2 linked regions of the Homo sapiens genome follow. The protein of the gene in region 2 interacts with the protein of the main gene of each other region in a pairwise test. Each region holds a gene or a part of one and is shown on either strand. Other genes may lie near its edges.

Region 1 (7,037 bases), on a different chromosome or scaffold from region 2:
TGACCCACTGGGCCCTGGTCACCTGCCTGACCTGGCCCTGGTGCATCTCTCCTCTCTGCCGCCACACCACACATTGCCACTGCCCAGATCTCAGCGCACTCCCTCTTCCCCAGCCAGACCACAAAGGAAGCACACGCCAGCACGGCAGGTCAGAGGCTGTTTCTTTATACAAAGGCAGACAACATGGACACCTCAGCATGCTGCTGCAGTTCATGGGGGCCCATCCCACCGCTTCTGGGGAGAGGAATCGGGGTGGGGGCGCCCGCAGCAGGGGAGAGACACTACACAGGCCTGGGACCGCCAAGCACACCAGCTGCGAGCTCCTGAAGGGCAGACACATGGACACACGGACACTGAAACCACGAGCACGGCACAGCCACAGGGAGGAATGGTGGAGCTGGGGACAGACATCGGCAGCTACTGCCAACTGCTGCCCTCTTCTGCCACGAGTTCCTTGGCGAGGAGCCTTGTCCGTGTTACTAAAGAGCCACGTGACTTTATCTGATGGCAGAACGTCTCGCTTTCTGCATCTGTAAGCTGGGCCAGTACACCGTACTCCACAGGGCTGCCGTGAGTACAGATGAGACTGAAACAGGGGCATTGATCAAAGTACCCAACACAGAGCCTGGCACATAGAGGTGTTCAATAAGTAACTTTTGTCAGGAGACTCTTAGGGAGGACCTTCAGAAGGCCAAGTGAGATGACTTCCCTAGAAATTCTCTCAGGGCATGGGGACCCTGGAGGACTCCTTGGAGCCTGCAGCCCCTGGTGTGCCCAAGGCCCCAGAATACACCGTGCCAGGGCTGTTCACAGGCGTGGGGGGCTGGATGCCCAGGGAGGTGCCCGCAGAAGCTGGGTAGACACTGGAGGAGGTGGGGTTTGGACCAAAGTGGTTCTGCACATAGCACAGGCCGGAGGCAGGCTGGTACGGAGGCAAGGTGGGCATGTGCCCGGGGGTGCAGGAGGGCCAGGAGGCCAGCTTCTGACCACTGGCGTGCTGCGTCTGGGACACAGGGTGGCTTGGGGACAGGTGAGGGTGGCAGCTCTGTGTGGGGTAGGAGCCAGGCACCGGGTTCAGTCTGGAATGGAACAAGAGAGAAAATGGTCCTTCAGCGAGTCTTGGCAAGGTCATGGCATCTTGTGCTTGAGGTTGCCCCCGCTTTCTAGTACAACATGCCTTGGATGTTTTCTGTGACTTGCTCTAAGTACCAAGTGGGAGAAAGGTTAACCTCAACCAATCAGACCACAGATGCCCAGGGAGGGTGGGGCCAGTTGCAGTCCTGCAGCAAGGGAGTTGTATGAAAGGACACTGGACCTGCCACTGAGACCACCGGAGGGGTGACCTGCTCACAGCAGCTTCTAAACCAGATGGAGCGTTGGGACCAGGTCACAGCTGCCAGTGCCTGTGTGGCTGGCTCGACAATTCTGCCCAAAGAGAACGGATTCAGGCTGGGCATGGTGGCTCACACCTGCAATCCCAGCACTTTGGGAGGCCAAGGCGGGTGGATCATCTGAGGTCAGGAGTTCGAGACTAGCCTGGCCAACATGATGAAACCCGGTCTCTACTAAAAATTAAAAAAAAAAAATTAGCCAGGTGTGGTGGCAGGCGCCTGTAGTCCCAGCTACTCAGAAGGCTGAGGCAGGAGAATCGCTTGAACCTGGGAGGCAGAGGTTGCAGTGAGCCAAGATTGTGCCACTGCACTCCAGCCTGGGTGACAGAGCAAGACTCTGTCTCAAAAAAAAAAATTGTTTTTTTTTTTTTTTAATTAGCCAGGTCTGGTGGCATATGCTTCTAGTCCCAGGTACTTAAGAGGCTGAGGTAGGAGGACTGCTTAAACCCAGAAGTTTGAGGCTGCAGTGAGTTATGACTGTGCCACTGCACTCCAGCCTAGGCAACAGAGCAAGACCATGTGTAAAAAAAAAAAAAAAAAAAAAATTATCTATCAACAAGAGCCTCTGAGGAGACAAGCTGTCCAAACGGCCATCTTGCTGACAAAATAAACATGCGTGTCATGACATGGCCCTGGACCCACTGTCAGGCTGCCTGAAACACAATATTCTGAGTGTCTGCAGCAGGCACCAGACCTGAGGGACTGGACTCCATGTCACGTGGGGAACACAGAAGGAACACCATCTTCCTCTTAAACCCTAAGATCTGCCTGTCACAGTGAGGCAGGATCAGACCTGGCACTGGGTGTGGCAGTGTCTGTGAGGCTGATTGCAATTCAGCATGGAAGAACTCTTTTTTTTTTTTTTTGAGACGGAGTCTCGCTCTTTTGCCCAGGCTGGAGTGCAGTGGCGCGATCTCGGCTCACTGCAAGCTCCACCTCCCAGGTTCACACCATTCTCCTGGCTCAGCCTCCCGAGTAGCTGGGACTACAGGTGCCCACCACCGCACATGGCCAATTTTTTGTATTTTTAGTAGAGATGGGGTTTCACCGTGTTAGCCAGGATGGTCTCGATCTCCTGATCTCGTGATCCACCCGCATCAGCCTCCCAAAGTGCTGGGATTACAGGTGTGAGCCACCGCGCCCGGCCCTTCAGCATGGAAGAACTTTCTCATCAGGGCCAGTCTTGGAGAGTGAGCTCTTGTATGTGAGATACAGCTGGAGACCACCATCAGCTATTACAGAGGGGATTCCTTGGTGACAGACAGTTCTCCAGATTCAATGAGAACAACTAAAACCCACAAAACACCTAGTCCTAAATGTACAGTCTCCCCCACATTGAGACCCCAGGAATTACTTGCCTGAAGCAATAATGCGGTGAGTCCGCATTTCTGTTTTCCCAGCAGCCCTCCTGGCCTTTTAGAAAAATAGTCCAAGGGCTCTGAGCTGTTGACAGCTGGGAGCACCTCTTGGAAGAAGCTCTAAGGGCAGCTTCCTATTCAACAAAAACCCCACATCCAGGCCAGCGTGCAGGGGAAAATTTACTCCACAGCTGGTGGCGGGCCAAAAAGGGCCAAGGACCAAGCACCTTGCCTTCTGATACACTTTGGATGTTTCCTCTGCTCCAAATCATGTGCTGAAATGGATCTTTAGCCGGGTATAGTGGCACGCGCCTATAATTCCAAGTACTTGGGAGGCTGAGACAGGAGAATCACTTGAACCCAGGAGGTGGAGGTTGCAGTGAGCTGAGATCACGCCACTGCACTCCAGCCTGGGCCACAGAGTGAGACTCCATTTCAAAAAAAAAGAAACGTGATTCCCAGTGTTCCAGCACTAGAGGTGGAGCTCAGTGGGAGGCGTCTGGGTCACGGGGGCAGACCTTGCGTGAGTGGCTTGGCTTCTTCCCCGTAGTAATGAGTTCTCCCTCTGAGTTTAGGTAAGAGCTGGGTGTTTAAGAGCCCAGCACCTCCCTCCCTCTCTCAATGTGTGGTGCCGCCTCCCCTTGCCCTATGATTGGAAGCTGCCTGAGGCCGGTGCCATGATCCTAGTGTAGCCTACGAAGCCATGAGCCAAATAAACCTCTTTTCTTATAAATGACCCAGGCTCAGGTATTTCTTTATAGCAATACAAAATGGATGAACACGCCTTTCCCAGCGAGCTCCTTTTTTGGGGGGAGGACCACTGAAGGAAAGAAAAAATCCTACACTGTGAGGTCTCAGCATGGACAGAAACCAGCGGAGAACTCAGAGGCAGGAGGCACTGGGAACAGGGGAGAGGGAGGGAGGTGGCCTCCTAAGCAGGGGACGTGCTTCCAGATGGCCCCTCTCCTGACTCTGTTACCTGGAAACAGAGTGGGTGAGAAAGACCCTTGTCTTCTTTGGGCCTCCTCTATAAAATGAAGCAGCCAGGCCACACAAGCTCTGGCGGCTTACCAGCACTTTCCATCTGTGAGTTAATCAGCCAACTGGAAAACAGTAAACCTCACCAGAAAACCTGGGCTGGGCCACCTCCTAAGCAGCCTAGTTGGCTGTGTGGACTGTCTGCACCTTTTTTTTTTTTTTTTTCTTGGGAGACAGTGTCTTGCTCTGTCAACCAGGCTGGAGTGCTGTGGTGTGATCTCGGTGCACTGCAACCTCCACCTCCCAGGTTCGAGTGATTCTCCTGCCTCAGCCTCCTGAGTAGCTGGGATTACAGGCAACCACCACCACGCTTGGATAATTTTTGTATTTTTAGCAGAGATGGGGTTTCATCACGTTGGCCAGGCTCGTCTCAAATTCCTGACCTTATATGATCTGCCCACCTTGGCCTCCCAAAGTGCTGGGATTACAGGCGTGAGCCATCGCACCCAGCCCTATCTGCACTTATCGAGGCTATTGTGTGTCACAGCCCAGGCTGACCTGCAGCAGGTATGTGTCTAATGTCAATTAGATGGGGGCCCTCCTGCCCAGCCTATCTACAAGTCACTCAGGATCACATGTTAAGTGTCCTCAAATGCCTTCCCTTTCCTGCTGTTGCTACTTCAGAAGCAGTTGTGCAGAATCCAGAATGCTCAGAAGACATCTGTGCATTATTTTCCAATCTGCCGCACCTCATTTCTTTATCACTTACGGCAATAAACCAGCCACACCCTCTGCATGCCCTGGAGTTGCTTTAATAATAAGGTTAGGCCAGGCTCAGTGGCTCACACCTGTAATCCCAGTACTTTGAGAAATCAAGGAAGGATGGATTGAGACCAGGAGTTTGAGACCAGCCTTGGTAACACAGTGGAGACCCTGTCCCTACAAAAAATTTAAGTTAGCTAGGCATGATGGTATGTGCCTGTAGTCTCAGTTACTTGGGAGGCTGAGGTGGGAGGATCACTTGAGTCCACGAGTGTGAGGCTGTAGCGGGCTATGATCATACCACTGCAATCCAGCCTGGGCAACAGGGCAAGACCCTGTCCTCAAATAAAAAAAAGAATAAAAAAACAGAATAAGATTTGACAGCATTTGGCCGGGGGCAGTGGCTCACGCCTGTAATCCCAGCACTTTGGGAGGCCGAGGCAGGTAAATCACAAGGTCAGGAGTTCGAGACCAGCCTGGCCAACATGGTGAAACCCCATCTCTACTAAAAATACAAAAAAATTAGCTGGATGTAGTGGTGGGCACCTGTAATCCCAGACACTGAGGAGACTGAGGCAGAAGAATCACTTGAACCTGAAGCAGAGGTTGCAGTGAGCCGAGATTGTGCCACTGCACTACAGCCTGGGTGACAGAGTGAGACTCCGTCTCAAAAAAAAAAAATAATTTTTTTTTTAAAAAAGATTTAACAGCACTTAAGAGTTCTGTCACTTACTTCCGGCTCTGGGCTGCCCTCCTCTCGGCTGAAGACCCTGAGACGTACTTGAACACGGATATCCTCCTCATCAGGCTGAAGGGGAAGGTCTGATCGAGCTTCAGTGCCACTCGCTCTGAGAGGTCGATGGAATAGCAGTAGGTGAGGCCATCTGAGGTTGGCGTGTTAAGTGAAACTGGAGGCAGCAAAGGGAGGAGGGCCGAACACTCCCCGGGGAGAACACAGGTTCCCACTCACTCTACAGAAGCCTTCATGCTTAGCACGCTGCACACTCTGGCTGGAGTTTGCAGCTCAGGGGAAACCCAGAGCCAAAGGTTTGTTTTTTTTTTTGAGATGGAGTCTCACTCTAGCAGCCCAGGCTGGAGTGCAGTGGTGTGATCTTGGCTCACTGCAAGCTCCGCCTCCCAGATCACACCATTCTCCTGCCTCAGCCTCCAGAGTAGCTGGGACTACAGGTGCCCGTCACCACACCCAGCTAATTTTTGTATTTTCAGTAGAGACAGTGTTTCACCATATTGGCTAGGCTGGTCTTAAACTCCTGACCTCGTGATCTGCCTGCCTCAGCCTCCCAAAGTGCTAGTATTACAGGCGTGAGCCACTGCGCCTGACCCCAGAGCCAAAGGTTTCTACTCACTGTGCCTCACCGGGAATGAATGCGCCCAGCAGCAGGGGGTATTAATGCTGTCCCTTCTCCTACACCCATGTGTGCCACCACTTGCACCCTTCTAGCCACTGCAGTCAGTCAGAAGCCAGGACATGCCTCTGCTGGTGTAGCAGGATAAGGCAGGAGGCTGTACCAGTATCATCCTGAGGGACTAACACCTCGTCCTTTTATCTCAAATAGAGGGCACCTGCCTCAGTGCGACCATGTGAGCTTCATGTGGGCCTCTCTGGCTGTGCTTCCTCCATACCCTGTCACCATCCCCAGCAACTTGGTGGTATCCTGGTCGTCTGACCTAAGTCACCCACCACTGATTAGGCAGCCACAAAGATTCAGCCTTTGAATAAAGGCTATGCTAGACTCTCCCGAAAAGAGCTTAGAAACAAACCTCAAGTTTCAAGCCAATCTTCAAGTAAGTTAACCGCCTATCAGAACAAAAGTCAACATTTTTTAAAGGAAAACAACAAAATCTAGAGCCCCTAATACAGCATTCAGTGTCTAGCATAAAATAAAAAATTACCAGATATGAAAAAAAAAGTAAAAAAAAATTATGATCAGATATGACTCGGCCACGGTGGCTCACACCTGTAATCCTAGCACTTTGGGAGGCCACGGTGGGTAGATCACCTGAGACCAGGAGTTCAAGACCAGCCTGGGCAACATGGTGAAACCCTGTGTCTACTAAAAAGAAAATATAAAAATTAGCCGGGTGTAGTGGTGCACACCTGTAGTCCCAGCTACTCAGGGGGCTGAGGCAGGATTGCTTGAGCCCAGGAGGCAGAGGTTGCAGTGAGTTGAGATCCTGCCACTGCACTCCAGCCTGGGTGACAGAGACTCTGTTTCGAAAAAATACAAAGTAAGCCCAATTTTATCTACTTGACACCCCAGACCCTCCAGCCTGGTTCACCCTTTGACATGCGTTGTTCTATAGCTCTCTGCTAGGAAGGATACAGGCCAGCCCGATGGACAGCCCGCAGACATTACTGAGGAAAGAGGTCTGGGGAATGAGCCACGAGGCACCCAGCAGGAGCCACGGAACCAGGACTGAGGGCACAACCATGCCAAACACCAGGGCCCGCCTCATCCGAGAACGGACGGTGGTGACTCCCAGCATGGCAAAGGCCACTGGGGTGAAACCTCTGGCATCCTCCACT
Region 2 (7,227 bases):
AGGACCAGTAAATGGGAAATCAGCATAATCATTTGAAACAACTTAAGACTACACTGCTATTAAGAGGCAGAGTTTGCACTGAGTATGGATTTCAGGATCTGAAACCAAGATGTGAACATGCTGTTGGTCTGAGAGCCTGAGGTATCCTGTGGTTCCCGTCACTAAGCCTCTTCCTTCATCTTTGCTCAGGTTTGCTGCTGCACCTTTGGGATGGGCTTGGAGTTTTTCTCTATGGCTCTGTAGCTTGTCTCTTAATCAGATCAGAAGCCCCAGGCACAAAATCTAAGAGAATTTACTGACTGGAGGGAGTAAAGAAAGACTCCTGAGTCCTCCAGGAACCCTTAGACTTACCTGACCCTAAGGCAGATTCATGAACTTGCAATGAGGATCAGAAGGATTTCCTAGGGCTGCCAATTTCTGAATGTATTTGCTGCCTTGCCTTTGTAAGGCTGAGATTGCCATACCTGGCTTCATTATGTATTAAAAAATGCATCATTTTTCCTCTTAGACTTTTTATTTGGGAGTCCCTATTTAGTTGAGAGAGCTATATGGAATGCAATGAAAATGGATTTTGGAGGCAGCAGAGTTGGGTTTGAACTTTCTCTGCTACCAACTAGCCATATGACCCTGAGCAACCGACTGAAGCAACCTTAGATATATTATTTGTAAAATAATAAAAATATCTATGTTGAAGGATTGTTTGCATTTTAAAAAACTTGATATTACTTACACAAAAAAGTGCCTTGCACAAAATATTTACTCAGTGTTCATTCTCTACCTCCCTACTTGTCTCCTGTCTTCCTTCTCTTCTCCTTGGAAAAGACAGTTCATACAGATAAAATGTATCAACAAGTTTGGAAAGGAGTAGGCAGACATACCTGTGTTTTCCTTTGAGTTGAGGAGTAGGAGGTTTAGACAGCTTCTAATCAGAAACAAATGGCCTCCACCAATAAGAATACTTGAATTTCCAGGCCACTAGGTAGAGGCCTGGGGCTGGCAGATCTTTGCTGTGCTCTATCTCTGCAATCATAAGGTAAAAAGAAATGACTGCTAACTGAATTGCCAAAGTGAAAAATATACTGACGTGAATAGACTGGAAGCAAATTAATTCATTCAACAAATATGCCCTGGGTACCTCTAAGTGCAGGTCCTAAGCTAAGTATGGGGCCCTGAAGATAATGAAGACCCTGCAACTAAGAAATAGTAGTAAAGTCTTAGAATTTAAAAAAGACCGTGACTGCTCTTAAGATGTTGTATATGGAGAGGCTGATACTACCTTGTGCTAAGTCCTATGGTAGCAGCATGCTCTAGGCATGAATGCTTGCACTCTCCTGGCCTGTTTATTATCCCTGTCTAGAGACCTAGTTAGTGACACAGAGTGGCCTGTGGGGTTAAAAACGTGCTGGGCAAAAGCACTTTAAGGACTGACTTAGAGACTCTACAGGCAGTAGAAACAAATTGGGAATTAGCACCTTTTAAAATTAATCCGTATTTACAGACTATAAATTTCTGAATGGGAGCAACCTTTTTAAATTTTGCCTTGAGTCAGTAGAGGAAGGTAGTGAGTGAACTGGAAATTGAGAGATCTGAGTTCTAGTTCTGCTTCTGCCTCTAAGCAGCTTGTAACCCTGGACACAATTCTCAATTTCTCTGAGCCAGTGCTTCCACATTTGTAAAACAGAGGGTTCAAGTGGCTTTCTCTTTGTTTCCTTCAAGCTTGAAAGGACTGTTCTTATGTCTGAAAACCAAGTAATTGGTGCACAAAAAAAAAAAGATATGAATTCAAAGGTAGGCGAGAATACTGCAGGCTTGAAGGATTGGGAGAACGTGTGTGCAAACTCTGCAAACTATAAAGTGGACTTCATAAGGTACTTGGTTGCTCAAAGGTGCTTATATTTATTTATTTATTTATTTGAGTTGGAGTCTCACTCTGTCTTCCAGGCTGGAATGCAGTGGCACAATTTCGGCTCACTGCAACCTCCACCTCCTGGGTTCAAGTGATTCTCCTGCCTCAGCCTCCTGAGTAGCTGAGACTACAGGCAGGCGGCACCACGCCTGGATAATTTTTGTATTTTTAGTAGAGACGGGGTTTCACCATGTTGGTCAGGCTGGTCTCAAACTCCTGATCTCAAGTGGTCTGCCCTCCTCGGCTTTCCAAAGTGCTGGGATTACAGGCGTGAGCCACCGTGCCAGCCATAGGTTGCTTATATTTAGTCCCTTGGCAGAAAGGAGACCTGACCTATTGAACTAGACCTTTGTACAACGGGAAAACCCCACCCTATACCTGACTGACCAGCAAATGTAGGAATCCTTTATGAGACATGGAGAGACTTGGGTGATTTGCAAATCATGTAATCAATTATGATTTCTTTGAATTTGAAATTTGATCATTTTATGTTTCTTATCATCATCCTACCATGCTCTTGCTTTGTTACAGTATTTTTTTCCCACGCCATCTATGGGGTATTTGTTTCCCAATGGCTGGCATTTCCATCTCATTCATAAGATGAAATCAGAGGTCACTGGAGTCACTGAAAGTCTCATGATTCTGTTTATCTCACTGACACTTTCCTTTTGGATGGTTCTGTCCACAACATAACTTTGTTTCCTTACAACTTCCCTTTGCTTCCTGACTCTCTCCTTAATTCTCTTGCTTTAGCCCTAGTCAAGAGACCCCAAAAGAAGATAATCACATTCATTCTTAAGGAACACACTCCAAGAAAAACATTCATCTTTTGTGAAAGCAGTTTCTGGATCATTTCCCCATTAAAAAAAAAATCCAGGACACTTACCTTGGTTAGCATAGAGCAGATTCTTTGACTTAAATTATTTCTCAAAGTCAAGGAAAGTGTTTGTCTTTTTTTTTTAAAAAAGCTCAAAACCCAAATTCTTTTTTCTGAAAGAAAAATAAATGGAAAGATGACTTTTGTAAAAGTGCCCTCAGTTTAAAACAAAAGCCATTCGTCTTTTCTGTTATGCTAGTGACAGCAGAAAGTATACAGACTAAGGAAAAAAAGTTGTGTAAGAGGCAAGCGTGATACTTCCGTGATCTTAAGGGAGGGCGGAATGGTGAGTTAGAATACAGCTGTTGGATTGGCAGAACATAAACGCTTCCTGCCCCTTTACCCCACCCTCCTCAACGTCATAGTTCTGGCAAAGCCCTAAAGCTATGGGAAGCACATGATAGCGTCGCTTTTGCCATTATAGTCTGTAGAGGGCGCCAAATCACCCCAAATTACAGCTTTCTCAGCGAAACAGGAGTTCTACTTTTGGAAACAAACTTCTACACCCTGACTCTTGCTTGGATTACCATAGGAGCTGTCCAAAGGAGAAAGTTATTTAGATGACCATTACCTCATCAAGTTCTTTCATGCTTGGAGTTCTCCAACCCCAGAAATGTGATTTTAAAGTTCAGGACTTACAAGGAATTTAAGCTGTTTTGTCCTTCAGATTGGATCAGCAGAGGGAGCTGGTGAAATGTGTTTGAGAAAGCATAAAGCTATTTTTAGATATTAACCTAGGGCACAAGAAAGGTAATAATTATAGAAGCTGTGGCAGAAATAGAAAACTTAACTGTTTTTCCTTCCACTGTGTGCTTGTAAGATAATATAACAGACCATCTTTAGGACTTGTGTTTAGGGACATTTTCCAACATGGTTCACTGAACAATTTCTAAACCACATTTGCTTGTGACTACACATGCAAATGCCTACAGGAGTGAGGAGGGTAACATACACGAGGAAAGTGGGCCAGATATGATCTGACTGGAAAGTACTTTCTCTGTCTATTCAGTTCAGCTAAATGTTGCTATTTGAGAAAATGAGCCCAATATGGCAAGGCCTTAGGTTCTTTTCAGTAAAAGCTGCAAATACAGATTTTAATATAAAATCTTCTGTTGGCAGCAAATATTTTCTTTTGAAAAATATCATGGAATATTATGCAGCCATAAAAAGAAATAAGATCATGTCCTTTGCAGGGACATGGATGAAGCTGGAAGCCATCATCCTCAGCAAACTAACACAGGAACAGAAAACCAAACACTGCATGTTCTCACTCATAAGTGGGAGTTGAACAATGAGAACACATGGACACAGAGAGGGGAATGTTGTAGGGCCTGTTGTAGGGTAGGGGGTGAGGAGAGGGAACTTAGAGGAGAACAGGTCAATAGGTGCAGCAAATCACCATGGCACACGTGTACCTATGCAACAAACCTGCACGTTCTGCACATGCATCCCACTTTTTTTTAGAAGAAATAAAGAAAAAAATTTAAAAAAAGAAAAAAAAATATTGTGTCCAGAGTTAGTTCCTTCCGGTGGGTTCCTGGTCTCCCTGACTTCAAGAATGGAGCTGCGGACCTTTGTGGTGAGTGTTACAGTTCTTAAAAGATGGCACAGACCCAAAGAGTGAGCAGCAGCAAGATTTATTGTGAAGAGCGAAAGAACAAAGCTTCCACAGAGTGGAAGGGGACCCGAGCCAGTTGCTGCCGCTGGCTGGGGTGGCCAGCTTTCTCTTATTTGTCCCCTCCCATGTCCTGTTTCTGTCTTATCAGAATGCCCTTTTCTCAATTCTCCCCACGATTGGTTACTTTTAGAATCCTGCTGATTGATCCATTTTACAGAGCGCTGATTGGTCCATTTTACAGAGCACTGATTGGTCCATTTTACAGAGAACTGATTGGTGCATTTTACAAACTTCTTGCTAGCTACAGAGCACTGATTGGTGCATTTTACAATCCTCTTGTAAGACAGAAAAGTTCTCCAAGTCTCTACTCGACCCAGGAAGTCCAGCTGGCTTCACCTCTCAATACCCCCTTTAAACAGGACACCCCAACTGCTTTTGAGAATTGCGCAATGACTGCTCTAGCTACTTCCTGCTGGATAGGGGTGAAGAAGAGACCCTGAATTGTAGTATCCTCCAGAGGGAAACTCTCTAGGTATCAAAGGGCCAGTGGGTCGATCCAGGGGGTCCTTGGTAGAAGTTGTTAGTTGAGCTCATTTGGGGTTTAATTTGCAAAACCATCTGTAGCTTGATGGCCTCGATCCTGGAGGAAACAAATTGACAAAGAGCTTAAAAATACAGGGCCCGAAGGCAAGTAATAGCAAGATGGTTGTCATGAGACCTAGAAAGGGGAGAAGCCATGTTGCCCAACTCCAGAGAATGGTATAAGAATTTGAAAGGCATTGTCTGATTTCAGAAGACTTTTCCTGTAAATGCCGGGTGGCGTCTCATATTAACCCTGACTGGTTAGTGTAAAAGCAACACTCGTCCCCTAAGAAGGTGCAAAGTCCTCCTTTCTCAGCAGTGAGGAGGTTAGGCCTCAGTGGTTTTAGAGAGTCACTGCTGCCAAAGAGTCTATTTGGGATTGTAGAGTAAGGATAGATTTTGTTCTTTCTTGCAAACTGCCTGAGAAATGCTTTGAGAGTGTGTGGTAGTAGGATAATGAAGTGGATAAATCTGCTATTCCGGTTCCTGTAGCAGTGGCCATTCCTAACCCTATAAGTAGGGGTATTAGTTGTATGGCCCTGTGCTGATGGACTTGTGCTTTGAGGAGCACTGATAGGGTCTGGGCAATGTTTATATTGGGACTTAGGAAGACTAAGGTGCAGGTGCCTGTCCAGTTGGTGGGGAGGCAGATATAGGTTGACATTCCATGTAAGAAGAATACGTCTTGGCTGGGTAGACAGAACTGGTTGTGTACGTTAAAAAGGTGTGTGAGTTTGTTGTTTTCATTTTCCCATACTCCTAGAGTACGTGCCAAGGTGGCTCCGGTGAGTGGCTGGAAAGGGGTGTTGGGAGCAAACTGAGTGGCTCCCTGTGCTCTATCTTCCCATTGGGGGAAAAAGCCGTTTTGTATCTACTAGGAACCATTCAATAGATTAATTGAAAGAGGGGATGAGGAGGCATTCACTAGTGGTGGGGGCACTGCTGCAGGGGGTCCAGGGGTGAATGGTCATGCAGGGAGTATGTTTGCTATTAAAAAACCCAGACTGTTTGTTAAGCAGGGAGGAGGTGATGATTTTTGGAGGCTCTGAGAAGTGGACAAGCCATCTGAGTGGAGCTGTTTGGGTGACTCGGAAGTTACTATAATCAGTTCGGGCTTGAAGTTGTAGGATGTAATTACACTGATGGGATAATAGGTCCCCCAGGGGCAGGCCTGATAACGGGTTGTGTTGGATGCATAGAGGGGCTTGGAAAGTTAAGATGGTATTCATGGTTATAGGGATTTGCCTTCTCAACCTTCCCTAAGGATTGTGGCCTCCAGGCGCAGTGGAGGTAATATGATATCCCTAGCACCCTGGAAATTCCCTGTTACCGTGGCTTTAAAAGCCAGACCATTGTCACTTTGTAAGCTTTGGGGAAGCCCAAATCTAGGAATTATTTCATGCATTAGGACTTTAACCACTTCCTGAGCCTTCTCTGTCTTGCAGGGGAAGGCTTCTATCCAATTTGTAAAGGTTTCAACACAGACCAACAAGTGTTGAAATCCCTTAGACTTAGGCATATGGGTGAAGTCTAACTGCCAGTCCTCTCTGGGATTGTGCCCTATTCTTTGTTCCCCCAGAGGGGCCTTATGATGGACCAAGGGATTATTCCTTTGGCACACCTCACAGGCTTTGACTACTTGTTGGATGGTCCAGAGGAGATTTGGACCCGTAAATAGAGATTTAGCCATTTGATGAGTGTTCTCAATACCCATATGAAAAGTTTGGTGGAGGGTCTTAAGTATTTTCCACTGTCTGGCTTCAGGTATGAGTACCTTTCCCTCTTCCGTAGTGAACCACCCTGAGGGGAGAAAACTATGCCCCCGTGAAAGTCCCCATTCTGTTTAAGTTGGGAAATACTGGGGCTTAATCTCTTGGAGAGGGTTGTTCCATACCAGTGGCCCTTCTACAGGTATTTCTAATGGTAGGTTCCACCTGGCAGCAATTTTGGCCTCAGCATCTGCCCGACAGTTTCCTTCTGCCTTTTCTCCTTCACCTTTTTGATGGCTTTGGCAGTGTAAGACTGCCATCTCCTTAGGTTTTTGCACCACATGCAATAACTTAATGATTTCCTTGTGGTATTTAATGGGGGTTCACCCAGAGGTTATGAACTCCCTTTCTTCCCACATTGCAGCATGGGCATGTAGGATTAGATAAGCATATTTGCTATTTGTATACACATTTATTCTTTTTCCCTTTCCCAGTTCTAAGGCTTGGGTAAGTGCCACTAGTTCTGCTAACAGTG

What was found. Proteins that work in one complex are often made in the same cells at the same time.
Region 1: the proteins of FMO4 (region 2) and RHBDD2 interact in binary tests that used the Homo sapiens proteins (3 or more experiments, as listed by UniProt).

The regions. Positions count from the first base shown.
Region 1 is NC_000007.14:75,882,034-75,889,070, reverse strand, and holds the end of RHBDD2 (rhomboid domain-containing protein 2), read right to left. Parts: coding exon 6,835-7,037; intron 5,374-6,834; coding exon 5,223-5,373; intron 1,080-5,222; coding exon 722-1,079; 3' UTR 145-721; downstream 1-144.
Region 2 is NC_000001.11:171,309,979-171,317,205, reverse strand, and holds the start of FMO4 (dimethylaniline monooxygenase [N-oxide-forming] 4), read right to left. Parts: upstream 3,024-7,227; 5' UTR 2,793-3,023; intron 1,021-2,792; 5' UTR 879-1,020; intron 1-878. UniProt on the Homo sapiens protein: This protein is involved in the oxidative metabolism of a variety of xenobiotics such as drugs and pesticides.